2 linked regions of the Homo sapiens genome follow. The protein of the gene in region 1 interacts with the protein of each later gene in a pairwise test. Each region holds a gene or a part of one and is shown on either strand. Other genes may lie near its edges.

What was found.
Region 2: the proteins of OSGIN1 (region 1) and BTBD2 interact in binary tests that used the Homo sapiens proteins (3 or more experiments, as listed by UniProt).

What each region holds. Positions count from the first base shown.
Region 1 is NC_000016.10:83,956,153-83,963,519, reverse strand, and holds part of OSGIN1 (oxidative stress-induced growth inhibitor 1), read right to left. Parts: intron 5,881-7,367; 5' UTR 5,849-5,880; coding exon 5,782-5,848; intron 4,261-5,781; coding exon 4,124-4,260; intron 2,952-4,123; coding exon 2,760-2,951; intron 2,540-2,759; coding exon 2,448-2,539; intron 1-2,447. UniProt on the Homo sapiens protein: Monooxygenase catalytic activity. Involved in regulation of cytokinesis; promotes RHOA activity, probably acting locally at the midbody in late cytokinesis.
Region 2 is NC_000019.10:1,984,687-1,991,820, reverse strand, and holds the end of BTBD2 (BTB/POZ domain-containing protein 2), read left to right. Parts: intron 1-998; coding exon 999-1,104; intron 1,105-1,450; exon of another isoform or gene 1,451-1,619; coding exon 1,620-1,817; exon of another isoform or gene 1,818-2,863; intron 2,864-3,326; exon of another isoform or gene 3,327-4,128; coding exon 4,129-4,321; intron 4,322-4,567; coding exon 4,568-4,655; intron 4,656-4,844; coding exon 4,845-4,991; intron 4,992-5,171; coding exon 5,172-5,333; 3' UTR 5,334-6,373; downstream 6,374-7,134.

The sequences.
Region 1 (7,367 bases):
GAATGCTCCAGGGCTGGCAGGGGCTGGGTAACCTTGGCAGTGCCATGAGGCAGGGGGTGTGTCTGCGGTGGTTTTGTGCTCTGACGTCTAAGCCCAAGGCCTGGCACATAATAAGCATTCGGTGAAGATTTGCTGGACTGGGGATGCTCACTCGCCTTTGGGAATATTGTGAGGCCATGTAAAAGGATGGTTTTGAACGCTGTGACTTCACCACATGAAACGCTTGGGATACAATGTGAAAATGCAAAATGAGCCTATAAAAGGCTGTGCTTACAAGCGAAATGTAAGTTTCTGGCTGCCTACTAACATGTAGCTACACAAACCTGGAAGTCTTCCTGCCAAACATGCAGAAGAGTCTTCGCATCAAAGAGATAGTGAGGCCTGGAGGGGGACGCCTGGAGTGCCTGCCGTTGGGGACACAGGCCTGGTCACAGCCCTGGGGGCGGAGGAAGCAGGGCTTCCCGAGAGGCAGACTGCACCCAGGTATCTGCGCTGGGGCAGCTTCTCATTGAGTGGATGCACCCCAGGAGGAGCAGGGACTAGAACTCCTTTATTCAGTGATTGAAACTGTGAGAGGCAAATCAATCTTGGGGCCCCCAAATCACTAAGTTAAAGGAAAAGTCAAGCAGGGAACTGCCTAGGGCAAAGCTGCCTCCCGTCCTACTCAAAGTCTTCCCTCTGCCCACTGAGATAAATGCACACCTGATTGCCTCCTTTGGAAAGGCTTATAAGAAACTCGAAAGAATGCAACCGTTTGTCTCTCACCTGTCTGAGACCTGGAAACACCCCTCCCTGCTGGAGTTGTCCCGCCTCTGGACGGAACCAATGTCCATCTTACATATAGTGATTGATGTCTCAAGTCTCCCTAACGTATACAGCCAGGCTGTGCCCCGACCACCATGTGTACATGTTATCAGGACCTCCTGAGGCTGTGTCATGGTTGTGCGTCTTCAACCTTGGCAATTAAACTTCCTAAATTAGCCTGGCGTGGTGGCTCACGCCTGTAATCCCAGCACTTTGGGAGGCCGAGGTGGGCGGATCACGAGATCAGGAGATCGAGACCATCCTGGCTAACACGGTGAAACCCCGTCTCTACTAAAAATACAAAAAATAATTAGCCGGGTGTGGTGGTGGGCACCTGTAGTCCCAGCTACTCGGGAGGCTGGGGCAGGAGAATGGCTTGAACCTGGGAGGCGGAGCTTGCAGTGAGCTGAGATCGCGCCACTGCACTCCAGCCTGGGCGACAGAGGGAGACTTCATTAAAAACAAACAACAAATAAACAAACAAAACTTCCTAAATTAACTGAGACCCATCTCAAATATTCAGGGTTCACAAACCTTTTCTCTAGGGTGGCCATGATGGGGCAGGAAGCCAGATGGGGAAAAAATACCCCAGGAGTGAAAGGGCGTGGAGAAGTGTGGGTTTGGGGTGAGCTGTTTTCCTTCTGCATTTCCAATAACCTGCATGACCTTAGGTGAGTTAATTTACCCAACTTGGGGGCTCATGGTTAAGGATGAAACTCACCTGTAGCAAAAGCATTAAAAAAAAAAAAAAGAAAAGAAAAAAGAAAGTCACCCTATTAGCTGACCCAGAAAGATTGTTCTAGGCCAGGCTCAGAATAGAGGAAAGGGCTGAAGGGAGACCACAAGGACTGGGGGACCTGTGCCAGAGGCACGGGGCAGGGCGTGGGGCTCAGGGGCCAGGTGTTACCCCCTCCTTAGAGGCTGGGGCACTATGGGGAGGCCCAGTTGGGGGCCATGTGACAGGGCGGTCTGCTGCTTGCACGGGACAGGGGGTCCTCGGGTGAGCCCAGCTCTGCTGCTCACCCCCACTCATGTGGGGTGGACAAGTCCTTTCCCTATCTGAGCCTCAGTTTCCCCCTCTGGAAGAAGAGGAAGACAGACCAGATGCACTCTGAAGCCCCTGTACCTCTGGCTCACGGGCTCACTGTGGGGGGCCTGTGAAATCCCCCAAATCACTAAGCTAAAGGGAAAAGTCAAGCTGAGAACTGCTGAGGGCCACCCTGCCTCCCATTCCATTCCAAGTCACCCCTCTGCTCCCTGAGATAGATGCGTATCTGATCGCCTCATTTGGAGAGGCTCATCAGAACCTCAAAAGAATGCAACTGTTTATCTCTCACCTACCTGCGACCTGGAAGCCCCCTCCCCACTTCCTGCCTTTGCTTCAAGCTGGCCCAGCTTTCCAGACCGAACCAATGTACTTCTTACAAATATTGATTGATGTCTCATGTCTCCCTAAAATGTATAAAACCAAGCTGTGCCGGATCACCTTGGGCACATGTCATTAGGACTTCCTGAGGCTGTCACGGGCGCGTCCTCAACCTTGGAAAAATAAACTTTCTAAATTAACTGAGACCTGTCTCAGATTTTCTGGGTTCACAGGCCCAACCTTCCGTGTCCCCCAAGGCGTTCCGGGGCGGCCTCACCTTCGCTTCTTCTGCATCCAGTCCTTGACCTCCAGGTCCGGGAGCCCCATCCACTGGCCTTGGCTCAGGATCACCATGGAGCCTTCGATGGACTGCAGGGAAAGGAACCCTTTGGTCCAGGCCTCTGCTCGCCTGAACCCATTTGGGGCTAGAGGGCATGGGAGGCCTTTGCTGGGGCTGGGTAGAGGGAGGAGGGAGAGGCAGGGTTGCGGGGTGGAGAATGAGGAAAGGGAGATGCCAGAGTCCCAGCCCCAAGTGGGGAGAACGAGGGAGAGAGCCCCCCACAAGCCATGCCCTCGCTGCCCCACTCACGTGCCAGGCTCCCCCGGGGAGGTTCCGGCCCAGAACCACGTGGGGGATGGCGTGCTCCTTCCGGTGCTTCCAGGTGAGGACCGACTTCATGTTTCCCCCAAAGTCTGTGTCTGGGCGTAGAAGGGCATCAAAGAGCAGGGCCACGGGGCTTTGGGATCGGCCTTCGAGGCCTTCGGACAGGTAGTCCAGGTCCTGGAGGGGGGCATAGGTCAGAGGGGCTGCTGGAGGAGGGCGGGGTCGTCTTCCCAGAGCCTGAGGCTGGGCAGGAACGTGGGGACTGGGGCCGGGCCATTTCCCTGGCACTGGAGGGTCTCAGAGAGATGCGCACCCTGGGGGTAGTTTGAAGCTCTCGTTTTGAGGTCTTTCTAGGAGGCCAAGGGCCCCAGAGTACAGACCAAATGCGCAAGCTTGGGTGAGACTGGAGCGATTGCCTGGTCCTACATCCCTACCCTAATATCAGTGTGGTCAGATCAGCTTGGGAGGTGCTGCCTCTTAACAGCAGATAACACAGACGGGCATATTAAAGGCTCTGACAAGTCCTGCAGCCATCATTTACCTGTTTAATTTTGCCAAACCCAGTGTGTCCCTGTTTTACTGGAGTGGGGACATTTTTCTCTCTATATTATACTGAGGAACTAGTATTCTATAGAGAGCACTTTGAAAAATGCTGATCTAGATCAAATGGTCAAGACCTATTTCCTCATCTCCAACTCAGGGGCGGGAAGGGAACAGGAGGATGTACACTGCCTGACGAGGGAGGTCGACAAGGGGAGGTCGTGGAGGAGCACAGTGGAAGACAAGGGGTACGGAGGGAGGATTTGCAAACCCTTGTGGGCAGGAGGTAGTGGGACTGAAATATCTGTGGTGGAGTTTCTCAACCTTGGCCGCACTGACATTTGAGCCAGATCATTCTTTGTAGCCAGAACAAAGTCATCCAAATGTCAGTGGGGCCAAGGTTGAGAAGCTCCACCACACATATTTCAGTCTCACCACCCTCGTTGTCCTGTGCAGTGCTGGATGTTTGCCAGCATCCCTGGCCTCCACCCTGCTAGATTTGGTAGTACCGTCACCCTGCCATGACAACCCAAATTGTCTCCAGACATTGCCAGGTGCCCCCCGAGGAGAAAAATCATCCCCTCCTTGAGAACAACCGGCCTAGGGCATAGTGAGCCCTAGATCGTGTGGCATTTGTGGGTCTCTGATTTCTCTTTCACGATCTCCGTGGCTGACTTTGTGGACTCTCGAATTCTTTGTTTAGTCTTGTTTCCAGCAAACACACACTTTTGTTTTTCCCTGGGAAAGCGGCGGTAGTTTTCCAAGGGCGGGTATGTACTACCCAGAGCTCTGGCCCCAGGCTGACCCACCTGGTCCAGGATGGAGACCCCCGGGGCCTCGGTGAGCTTCCTCTGCAGCAGGGGGTGTGGGTGGATGGCATCTGGCTTCGTGTAGGGTGTGTAGCCGGAGAGCAGGTAGGACAGGCAGATACCAGAGGGGCCGTTACCTGGGGAGAGAGGGTGGAGGTTAAAGGGGGTGGCCTTTTCAGGTGGGGGACACTACTGTGGAGGGCTTTGATCTAGATGCGGCGCATTCATTCATTTATCCTTCATTCATAAAAATAAATATTTATTAAGCCCTTAGCCTGTGCCAGACACTGTGCCTAATAATACTTTTAAAAAGAAGGAATGAACAACTGCTGAGAGCTTACTCTGTGCCAGGAATTGTACTGAGAGCTTTCACAACAGCCTCACAACAGCTTTAGCGAGGTAAGTGCCACTCTTTTCCTCCTTTTATACTTGAGGAAATGGGCACAGAGAGGTTAAGTTACTTGCCTGTGGTCACACGGCCGGAAGGTAGACGAGCCGGGATTAAAACCCAGACAGAGGGAATATCTGACGACGCGACTGAGATTCTGAGATTGCTAAGAACTAGGTCAGATGGATGAGTGAATGTAGCACAGATTGCTACGTGGCCTGGGGGCGAACTTGAGTGGTGGGTGCTTGTGGGCGCTCAGGGGTGCTGAGCCGCCTGTTGGGTCTGCTGCTTGCACGTCTGAAGAACTGCGCTGCCATCTGTGGCGCTTCCTGGGCGATTCACCAGGCACAGCCCTGTGATAGCGCTTCTCTTTTTATCTGTCCTTTCCCCTCTTCTTATCTCGTCTGATTCGGAATATTACTCATATGCAGGATACCAGGAAGAACCATATGAAATCACAGGCACCCATCTGCTTTTGCCTTACAGAAATGACCATCTCACGTGGCTTAATCGGACGCCTGCATACTGGGGGGTCATCTGTCCCCATTTGTGCAGACAGAGGACAGGAATCATAAGCCGCTACTGTGTGTCCTCTCATGTGGGCACCTAGCACAGTGCTGGGCACAGGGTAGTCATGGGATCAGTGTGGGCTCAGGACCAGGCCTCCCTGCGCCACGCCGGGTCGCCTCCAGCTGATGGGTGTGTTCTAGACCCCTGGGTTCTCGGAAGTGTGAAAGGGAATGATAGCTTATAAACTGCTAAGCCTAGCACTGGCCACATAGTAAACGCTCAATGGCTTAATTTAAAGACCACTGTAAAGAGGCCAGGCCTGGGCCAGGCATGGTGGTTCACACCTATAATCCCAGCACTTTGGGAGGCTGAGGCAGGCAGATCACTTGAGGTCAGGAGTTCGAGACCAGCCTGGCCGACATGGCGAAACCCCATCTCTACTAAAAATACAAAAGTTAGCTGGGCATGGTGGCATGCACCTGTAATCCCAGCTACTTGGTAGGCTGAAGCAGGAGAATCGCTTGAGCCCGGGAGGGAGAGGTTGCAGTGAACCAAGATTGCACTACTGCACTCCAGCCTGGGCGACAGAGTGAGACTTTGTCTCAAATAAATAAATAAATAAATAAATAAATAAATAAAAAATAAACCCCAAAAACGAAAAAAGACACCAGGCCTGGACTTGCCCAGCTCCTGCCCTCAGACCTGGGGGGTACCCGGAAGGCTCAGCGGAGCCCCTCCCTGGCTGGGGCCTGACACTCACCCACAATGATGACCGGGAGGGGCTCTGAGCTGCTGGCGCCGAGGTGGTCCTTTCTGGAGGAGCTCATGGCTGGTGGGGGGCTTGGGGCTGGCAGCGGACCTGGAGTGGGGGAGAGGGGAAGGAAGAGTCCATTCGGGTGAGGCCTGGGTGTCCACACAGCCACTTCACCTCCCAGCTAGGGTGGCCTCCTGTGGCCCTCAGGGTCTGGTCCGGGGTCCCCATGAGACATATCTGACGGGACTCCCTTCTTGCTCTCACACAGCCTCTGCTCCAAACAGGCTGTTTGCCCCACCCCTCCCCAGTCATGCAGAATGTGCCCTCCCCTCCTCGGGCCTGGTTGCCCCAGGCAGCCACTGTCCCTCCGAGCCTCACTCTACTCTCCCATCTCACTGGGGCAGTAACAGTCCCCGAAACTCATTATCTGTCTTCCCGAGAGGCCATTCCTGCCCAACCCAGGAACCAGCCCTGCCAGACCCTTCTGTGGGCCACAGTCCTCGAGTCCCAGTGTGGCCTGGTGGACTCGTCATCCAGCCCTGGCACGTTGCTTCCTATCCCATTCCCGGGCCTCTCTGGGTCTCAGTTTCCTCATCTGTAAAATGGAAGCAATGAGTCCCTACCTCCTAGGGTGGTTGAGGGACACAGTAGGATCACAGACGGGAAGCACCTGCCTGGAGTGAATCTGCCACAGGGAATGGGCCAGCGCTGTGGCCTGCCCCAGGAGCTGGGATGGACTTGGGGAAATGGAAGCAGTGGCCAGGTTTGGGGACGTGCTGGTGAACCTGCCATCTCTGGGGCAGCCGCGCCCTCTGCTGGCCGCAGGCCCAAATCGCTCAAAGGGACCCAAGTGCTGGTCCTAGAGCTGCCGGTTCCCAGAGGAGCATCAGACCTACCTTCTTCCCCACACCAGCTAGCAGCGGACACCAGCCTCACCCGAGGGCCACATGCTGCCATCCTGAGGACCACAAGGCAACACCCTTGTGGGCACAGGGATGATGAGCATTTGGCACTTACTGTGTACCGGGTATTTGACATGCTTTTTCTCATATCCGCCTCACGCTGACCCTGTGCAGCCCTGGCCATATTAATGTCCCATTTCACAGATGTGTAAACGGGGCTCAGAGAGGTCGCACAAACTTCTCAGTGTCACACAGCTGGCTTTGAAACCCAGGGCTCACTGGTGCCAAGACCCTGCCAGTGCCACCACCCACACCACTCGGCCTGTCCCTCGAGATCCAGGGCCCATCCAGGTGTCACACTCAAGTGGGCGGGCACAGGGCTTGGACCACCCAGAGTGGCCAGGGGTGGGGGCCCAGGGCCACCTGCCTCCAGAATTCTTCCAGAGAAAGTGGGAATCTGGATTTCTATGTGAATGATCTGAGTTGAAGAAGTGGGCAATGAATGAACGCAGAGTTTTGGAAGATGCTTAAAAGGCCAACCAAACACAGCTGAGACCAGTGTGTGGCCTCTGATGTGTGCAGGGTGACAGAAACACCTTCGTCCACCTCCAGGCAGGTCCCGAGGAGAGGGATGAGAAACTGCCACACAGATGGGCCACTGAGAGGACCTATGTGTCGCCCCCACAGTGA
Region 2 (7,134 bases), on another chromosome or scaffold:
AAAGGGCGGGGGCTGGGGAGGTCGTGCAGGCCAGGGAGGCTGAGAGGACGTGGGGCCAGTACGGGTGGACGGCCGCTTGGGAGCCGTGAGCTCCTGGTCGGGGGTGGAGGGTGGCCAGAGGGGACAGCGGCACTGGGTCCTCCAATGGGCTTTGGGGGTCCGGCATCCTGGAAAGGACCCAGAACCTTCTCCCCCTCCATCCTGGCAGGTCAGATGCAGGGCATCCCGGACTCCCACAGGGAGGGGTTTCTTGTCCGGGTCATCTGGTCGCCTTGCTGGAGAGGCCTCTGCCTGAGCTGAGAGGAGGCTGGAGCTCACTCCCCGGGCTTCATCTTGTGGCTGCCTCAGCCTCCCTGCCCCTAAAACCACTACGAACCCACTTGAGAGGTGTCCTCGGGAGGATGCCCGCAGAAAGGCCTGCCCGGGTCCCTGCTGGCATAGGCCCTTCCAGCACCTTCCACTAACTAAGCCTCTGTTTCCCTAAGAGCACAGGCGTCCTCCAGCTCTGTCACCTGACTGTCAGAAGTCATGTCTGCTGTTTGTCTTGGGATGGAGCTGCCGGGGACACGGCCCCTCCCACCACAAGTGGCCAAGGGCATGTTGTGGTCGGGAAGCTTCACCGGTCGGCCCCGGCCACCTCACCTCTGCCTGCCACTCGGGGTCCTGGGCCCTGCTGCCCCCCGAGTGCAGCTGCAACGCCCCTTTTGCCTAAAGCAGCAGGCCCTGCCGACAGGGACCTGAGCATCTTTTTCTTCCTTCCTTGGCCTCTGAGGTCCTGAGAGGGAACTCCCCAACTCTCCCGCCCCAGTCAGCGGTCACAGGGGAGTCTCTGGGCCCACAACAGGGCCGGCCTGGTGGCTGAGACCCTGGTGGCTCCTGGCCACGCTCAGGAAGGCCCGTGTGGTCAGGGCTGCATTTGAACCGGCCCCGCACTGGGGATCTGCCGAGGGCTGGGTGCTGATGTCCCCACCGCGCCCCCCGTCGATGTCTCTTGCCAGGCGCGACTCTTCGATGAACCGCAGCTGGCCAGCCTGTGCCTGGAGAACATCGACAAAAACACTGCAGACGCCATCACCGCGGAGGGCTTCACCGACATTGACCTGGGTAAGGGCCCAGGAGCCCAGGTGTGGGAATCCCAGCGGGGCCTCGGCGGGAGGGTCCGGGGATTGACAGTGGGAGCTTTGGGCCTGGGGGAGTTGCACAGGTGAGCTGGGGCCTCACCACTTGCAGCAGGTCAGGAGTTTGGGTCCTAGCACAGCCCCACGGGAGTCCGGGGCCTTGGCCAGGAGGCCACAGGCCAGAGCCCACCATCCCAGCTGATGGTGACCATCTCGTCCTCCGATGGTCCATGGCTTTGACTTTGCTGTTGAACAGCTTTTGTCAAAGCTACTCAAGTCTGTCCTTGTGGCTTAAAAACAACCACAGCCGAGGAAAATGAAGGGGCGTGGTCTTGTGTTGATAAAGCTTTATTTATAAACACACTCACAGGGCCAGATTTGGGCCACGGGCCATAGTTGCCAGCCCGGCTTTAACTGCTGGTCCTCACGTTAGTCTCACTGCCTCCTGCAGGGTGGGCATGTGGGTGTCGTGTTCACGCAGCCCCTTCCTCCACCCCACAGACACGCTGGTGGCTGTCCTGGAGCGCGACACACTGGGCATCCGTGAGGTGCGGCTGTTCAATGCCGTTGTCCGCTGGTCCGAGGCCGAGTGTCAGCGGCAGCAGCTGCAGGTGACGCCAGAGAACAGGCGGAAGGTTCTGGGCAAGGCCCTGGGCCTCATTCGCTTCCCGCTCATGACCATCGAGGAGTTCGCTGCAGGTAACAGAGCTCGGGCTCAGGGGCTGGTTTGGGAGGGGAGTGGCACACAGGTGGGCATCTGGGTACCGAGGATAGTGCCCCCGAGTTCACTGCGGAAAGCCTGGCAGATGCCTGGCATATACAGATAGGAAGAAACCTGGCTTGTGAGGACGCGTCCACAGGGCCATCTGTTAGCCCCGGCCCGGCTCTGTCCCCACCGTGCACACTGCCAGACCCCGCCTCTCGTGTCTGTCCAGCTGTTTTGGTGGCATCTTCCCAGGAGGGAAGGGAGTCCCCGTCTCGCGCCCTTGTGCTACCTGCTGGTGCAGGTACCAGTGTCTGTGACGAGCTCAGGAGGGCTCTGACATGGCCGGGGTGGCTGTCATGCGCCCGAGTGGGCCTTGGGGTCCCCTGCTGCAGGGCCTGGGTTCCAGGGTGACGTGAAGGGGCAGCGCTAACGATGCCTCCTGCCCTCGTGGCTGCTCACTGCCTGACGCCATCCAGCTCTGGAGCAAAACAGGCCTGGAACTTTCCAGAAGGGGCTGGGACAGAGCCCTGGGGCTGGTGCACACTCGCCGTCTGGCCTTCCCCAGGTCCACGCGGCCCCCGCTCTTGCTTAGCTGAAGGTCGCCAGATTTAGCAAGAGGGTCTCTGTCGCCCAGGCTGAGTGCGGTGGTACAATCACAGCTCACTGCAGCCTCGACCTCCTGGGCTCAAGTGATCCTCCTGCTTCAGACTCCGGAGTAGCTGGGATCACAGGTGCCACCACCACACAAGGCTTATATTTGTATTTTTTTGTGGGGACAGGGTCTTGCTATGTCACCTGGGCTGGTCATGAACTGGGCTCCAGCCATCCTCCCATCTCGGCCTCACAAAGTGCTGGGATTATGGACATGGGCCACCGAGCCTGGCTAGATACATACTTCTTAAAAATACAACTGTTGATCAGCTGGGTGTGGTGGCTCATGCCTGTAATCCCAGCTACCCGGGAGGCTGAGGCAGGAGAATCACTTGAACCCAGGAGGTGGAGGTTGTGATGAGCCGAGATCGCGCCACTGCACTCCAGCCTGGGCAACAAGAGTGAAACTCCATTTAAAATAAAAAAATATATACAATTGTTGGCCAGGCTGGGTCACTCACTCCTGTAATCCCAGCACTTTGGGAGGCCCAAGATGGGGGGAATCACTTGAGGTCAGGAGTTTGAGACCAGCCTGACCAACAGGGTGAAACCCCGTCTCTACTAAAAATACAAGATTAGCTGGGCATGGTGGCGCATGCCTGTAAACCCAGCTATGCTGGAGGCTGAGGCAGGAGAATTGCTTGAACCCTGGAGACGGATGTTGCGGTGAGCCGAGATTACGCCACTGCACTCTAGCCTGGGGGACAAGAGCGAAACTCCGTCCTGCACTCTAGCCTGGGGGACAAGAGCGAAACTCCGTCTCAAAAAAAAAAAAAATTGTTAACATTGTTTATTGAGTTTTGATACTCAGTCTTCCTGATTCACTTAACCCATAATGGTCTGTTTCTCACCAGTTATTAAACTGTGTCTGCACTGGGCTGGCTTGCAGCTGAGCGATGCGGAGTTGAGCCCACCTTGGTTGATGAGTGATTAGGTCTCAGGCAGGCAGGGCTGCTCTCATTAGAGCAGAGGGTGCTGTGTCCTGGCACTCCTGGGGGTGGATGGTGGACCCCCAATTCTGCCCCTCCTGGCCTCCCCTCCCTACCCAGAGCCCCTTCACATCCCATGCACAGTCCCTCTGCCTGTGACATCTCTGCACCGGGATTAAGAGCCTGGCTCTTGGAGTCTGCCTGGGGTCCGCTAGCCATCACCCCTGGGGGTGTAAGCGCTTGAGAAGGTGTCTGCCTAGGGCCCACCGTGGAGAGGAACCCCCAGACTGCTTCTAGAAGCCAGGGCTGCAGCCTGGGGGGTACAGGCCTAGCAGGGAGCCACAGTGACCCCTCCCAGCCAATGGCCCTGAGAGAACAGGCAGTGGAGCCCCCCGCCCCCACCCACAGTGAAGTGACGGGTGGTCCCTACAGTGGGGCCAGACCCTGAGACATCACCCCTGAGTGAGTGCATCTGTCAGACCCTGAGGCATCGCCCCTGAGTGAGCGTATCTGTCGGCCTCTGGTCTGTGCCCTGGGACCTCTCCCTAAAAGCCCAGGCAGCAGGGGCCATGGCTGGTGGCTAGTCCCCCGGGGAGGGGCTGCCCAGGTCCCTGCACCTTGAAAGTCCGACGCAGACATCTTAGGGGGAAGGAGCGTGTCCTCCCAGGCACTCGGGATCCTGGGGTGCAGCCCGGCCCTCCCCCACACCCTCCCTGTGCTGCAGGTCCCGCACAGTCGGGCATCCTGGTGGACCGCGAGGTGGTCAGCCTCTTCCTGCACTTCACCGTCAACCCCAAGCCACGAGTGGAGTTCATTGACCGGCCCCGCTGCTGCCTGCGTGGGAAGGAGTGCAGCATCAACCGCTTCCAGCAGGTGGAGAGTCGCTGGGGCTACAGCGGGACCAGTGACCGCATCAGGTGGGGCTTGGGGTGCAGGCGGGGGGGTCCGGACATGGGGGTGGAGGACTCGGGGATGACGGAGATGGGGGGCCGGGCATGGGGGTGGAGAACTCAGGGATGATGAAGACGGCGGGGGGGCCGCCGGGCATGGGGGTGGAGGACTCAGGGACGATGGAGGGGACCGGGCATGGGGGTGGGCTCGCCCCAGCTCACCTTAGGCTATCCCTGGGTATCCACGCTGCTGCCTGTCATCTGCCACGGCAGGTTCTCAGTCAACAAGCGCATCTTCGTGGTGGGATTTGGGCTGTATGGATCCATCCACGGGCCCACCGACTACCAAGTGAACATCCAGGTACCAGCCCCAAGCCTCATCCCCAGGCCCCACTCAGGCCCATGTCCTCTCTCCACCTCCATGGAACCCTGGCTGAACCCCCGGCCCTGGTCCCTGTGCTGCCCCCACCCTGGGCAGGTGGGCTGGGCCTCGAGGGGTCCCCGTTGGCCCTCCCCAGGCCTGAGCCTCCCACTTCCCACCTCCCCGCAGATTATTCACACCGATAGCAACACCGTCTTGGGCCAGAACGACACGGGCTTCAGCTGCGACGGCTCAGCCAGCACCTTCCGCGTCATGTTCAAGGAGCCGGTGGAGGTGCTGCCCAACGTCAACTACACGGCCTGTGCCACGCTCAAGGTGCGCCGCCGGGGACAGGGGTCCCTCCGTGGGAGTCTCTGGCCCATCCTGAAGCCACCGGGGCACAGCACACACTCTCCAGAGGCAGCCACCCTGGCCCAGTCGGGGCCTTGCCCTGTCCACACCTGGGGCATCCCAGCCTGGTGGTCCTTGACCTCACTGTACCCCTATTCCCTACAGGGCCCAGACTCCCACTACGGCACCAAAGGCCTGCGCAAGGTGACACACGAGTCGCCCACCACGGGCGCCAAGACCTGCTTCACCTTTTGCTACGCGGCCGGGAACAACAATGGCACATCCGTGGAGGACGGCCAGATCCCCGAGGTCATCTTCTACACCTAGGCTGCCCGACACCGACACCGCCCTCCCTCCGTGGGGATAGCCGCAGCCCCAGGCCATCATCTGCTGCTGGGGCCCCCCCACCACGCGGTGCCAGGCCCAGTGTCCCCCAGGCCGTCTGTCCACTCCATGCCACCTTTCTCAGCATCAGGACGGGGTTGCCCTGTGTTCACCACGAGTGTGGCTGCTGGATCAGGGCAGCCGGGGAGGTGGCCAGGCCAGTGGCCAGGCCCTGTGGAGACAATCCCTCAGGACTAGGGACAGGGCTGTGCCGGCCTGGGCCAGGGCCCACGGACCCGCAGCTCAGGGCGCCTGCCCACGTCGTCTGCCGGCGGTGCGCCGCGGGCGTCCCTCGCGTCTCTTCACTGCACATTGCAATGCATTTGCGATTCCCATTTCTCTGCTAGGAGCCAGCCTGGGTGGCGCTGCTCCCAGAGCCGTGGGTCCCAGACCTTGCGTTCCTTTTGTTCCTGTCCGTTTATCAGGACACGGGCCCCACCTGTCACGTGCCCGAGGCCACCCAAGCCCAGCCTGCGGGGCGTTCCCACTGCCTGGATGCCGGCTTGAGTTCTGCGCACGCAGGATTCAGTGTGGGGACGGCCCCTGCCGGATAGGCCTAGCCCTGGCCCAGGTGGTGAGCGGTTTGCAGTGTCCGTTCTCATCCACCTGATGGGCCCAGATAAAGGCCCCCGCTGTCCAGCCTCCCTGGACGGCCCTCGCGGTCCCTGCAGCCCAAGATGGGACTCAGACCCTGTGCCCCAGAGCTCCCCTGCCGCAGAATGGGGCCCCAGCCGGCCCCGACCGGGTCCAGGAGCACTGCTCGCCTGTACATACTGTTGCCCTAGCCCACCTGGTGCCGTGGGAGCCACCCCCAGGTGCTGGGGGCACAGCCCCTCCCCACTCCGGCCACGCCCCCACCCACCCCGCGTGTTTCTGCCCTGTGACTCCTGGAACCTGCGTCCTCCCCAAAGCCATGGGAGGGGTGTCCTCCTCAGACCATGCCCCCAGATGATTTTTTTAAATAAAGAAACAAATGCACCTGCCTTGAGCGCACACTGCTTTGCTCCCCTTCACTCTCTGCCCTGTCATCCGGGCTGCAGTGGGCGAGGGATGTCGTGCGCCGAGAGGGGCCCTGAACCCCGGGTCTGGTCGCCAGTGCTGCGAGACCCTCCTTAAGTACCCACAGGCCACACTGAAGCCCGGGAGGTCGAGACTGCAGTGAGCAGTGATGCACCACTGCCCTCCCCCCTGGGCAAGAGCAAGACCCTAACTAACTCAACACCTCCCCCCAAACCCAAATGCAATGGACGTGTGTGCCGATTTCCCCGTGGGGAGGCCCTGCTGGCTGCTGGGGGACCGTGGATGTGAGAGATGGAGAGAAAGCAGGGAGTGCCCAGTTGTGGCCTCAGTGGCCAGAGAAGTCAAGCCGTTGGCTGCTGCCTCAGGAGCACACGTGCAGGGCAAGACATCAAGAAACCCGGCAGCAAGGCCGCGTGGTGGCTCACACGTCATTACAGCACCTTGGGAGGCCGGGCGGGTGGATCACCTGAGGTCAGGAGTTCAGGACCAACCTGGCCGACATGGTGAAACCCCATCTCTACTAAAAACACAAAAATTAGCCAGGTATGGTGGCAGGCACCTGTAATCCCAGCTACTTGGGAGGCTGAGGCAGGCGAATCGCTTGAACCTGGGAGATGGAGGTTGCAGTGAGCCAAGATGGTGCCATTGCACTCCAGCCTGGGCGAGAAAGCAAGACTCCGTCTAAAAAAAAAAAAGCCAGCCGCAAACAGTTGCCAGGAGGCTG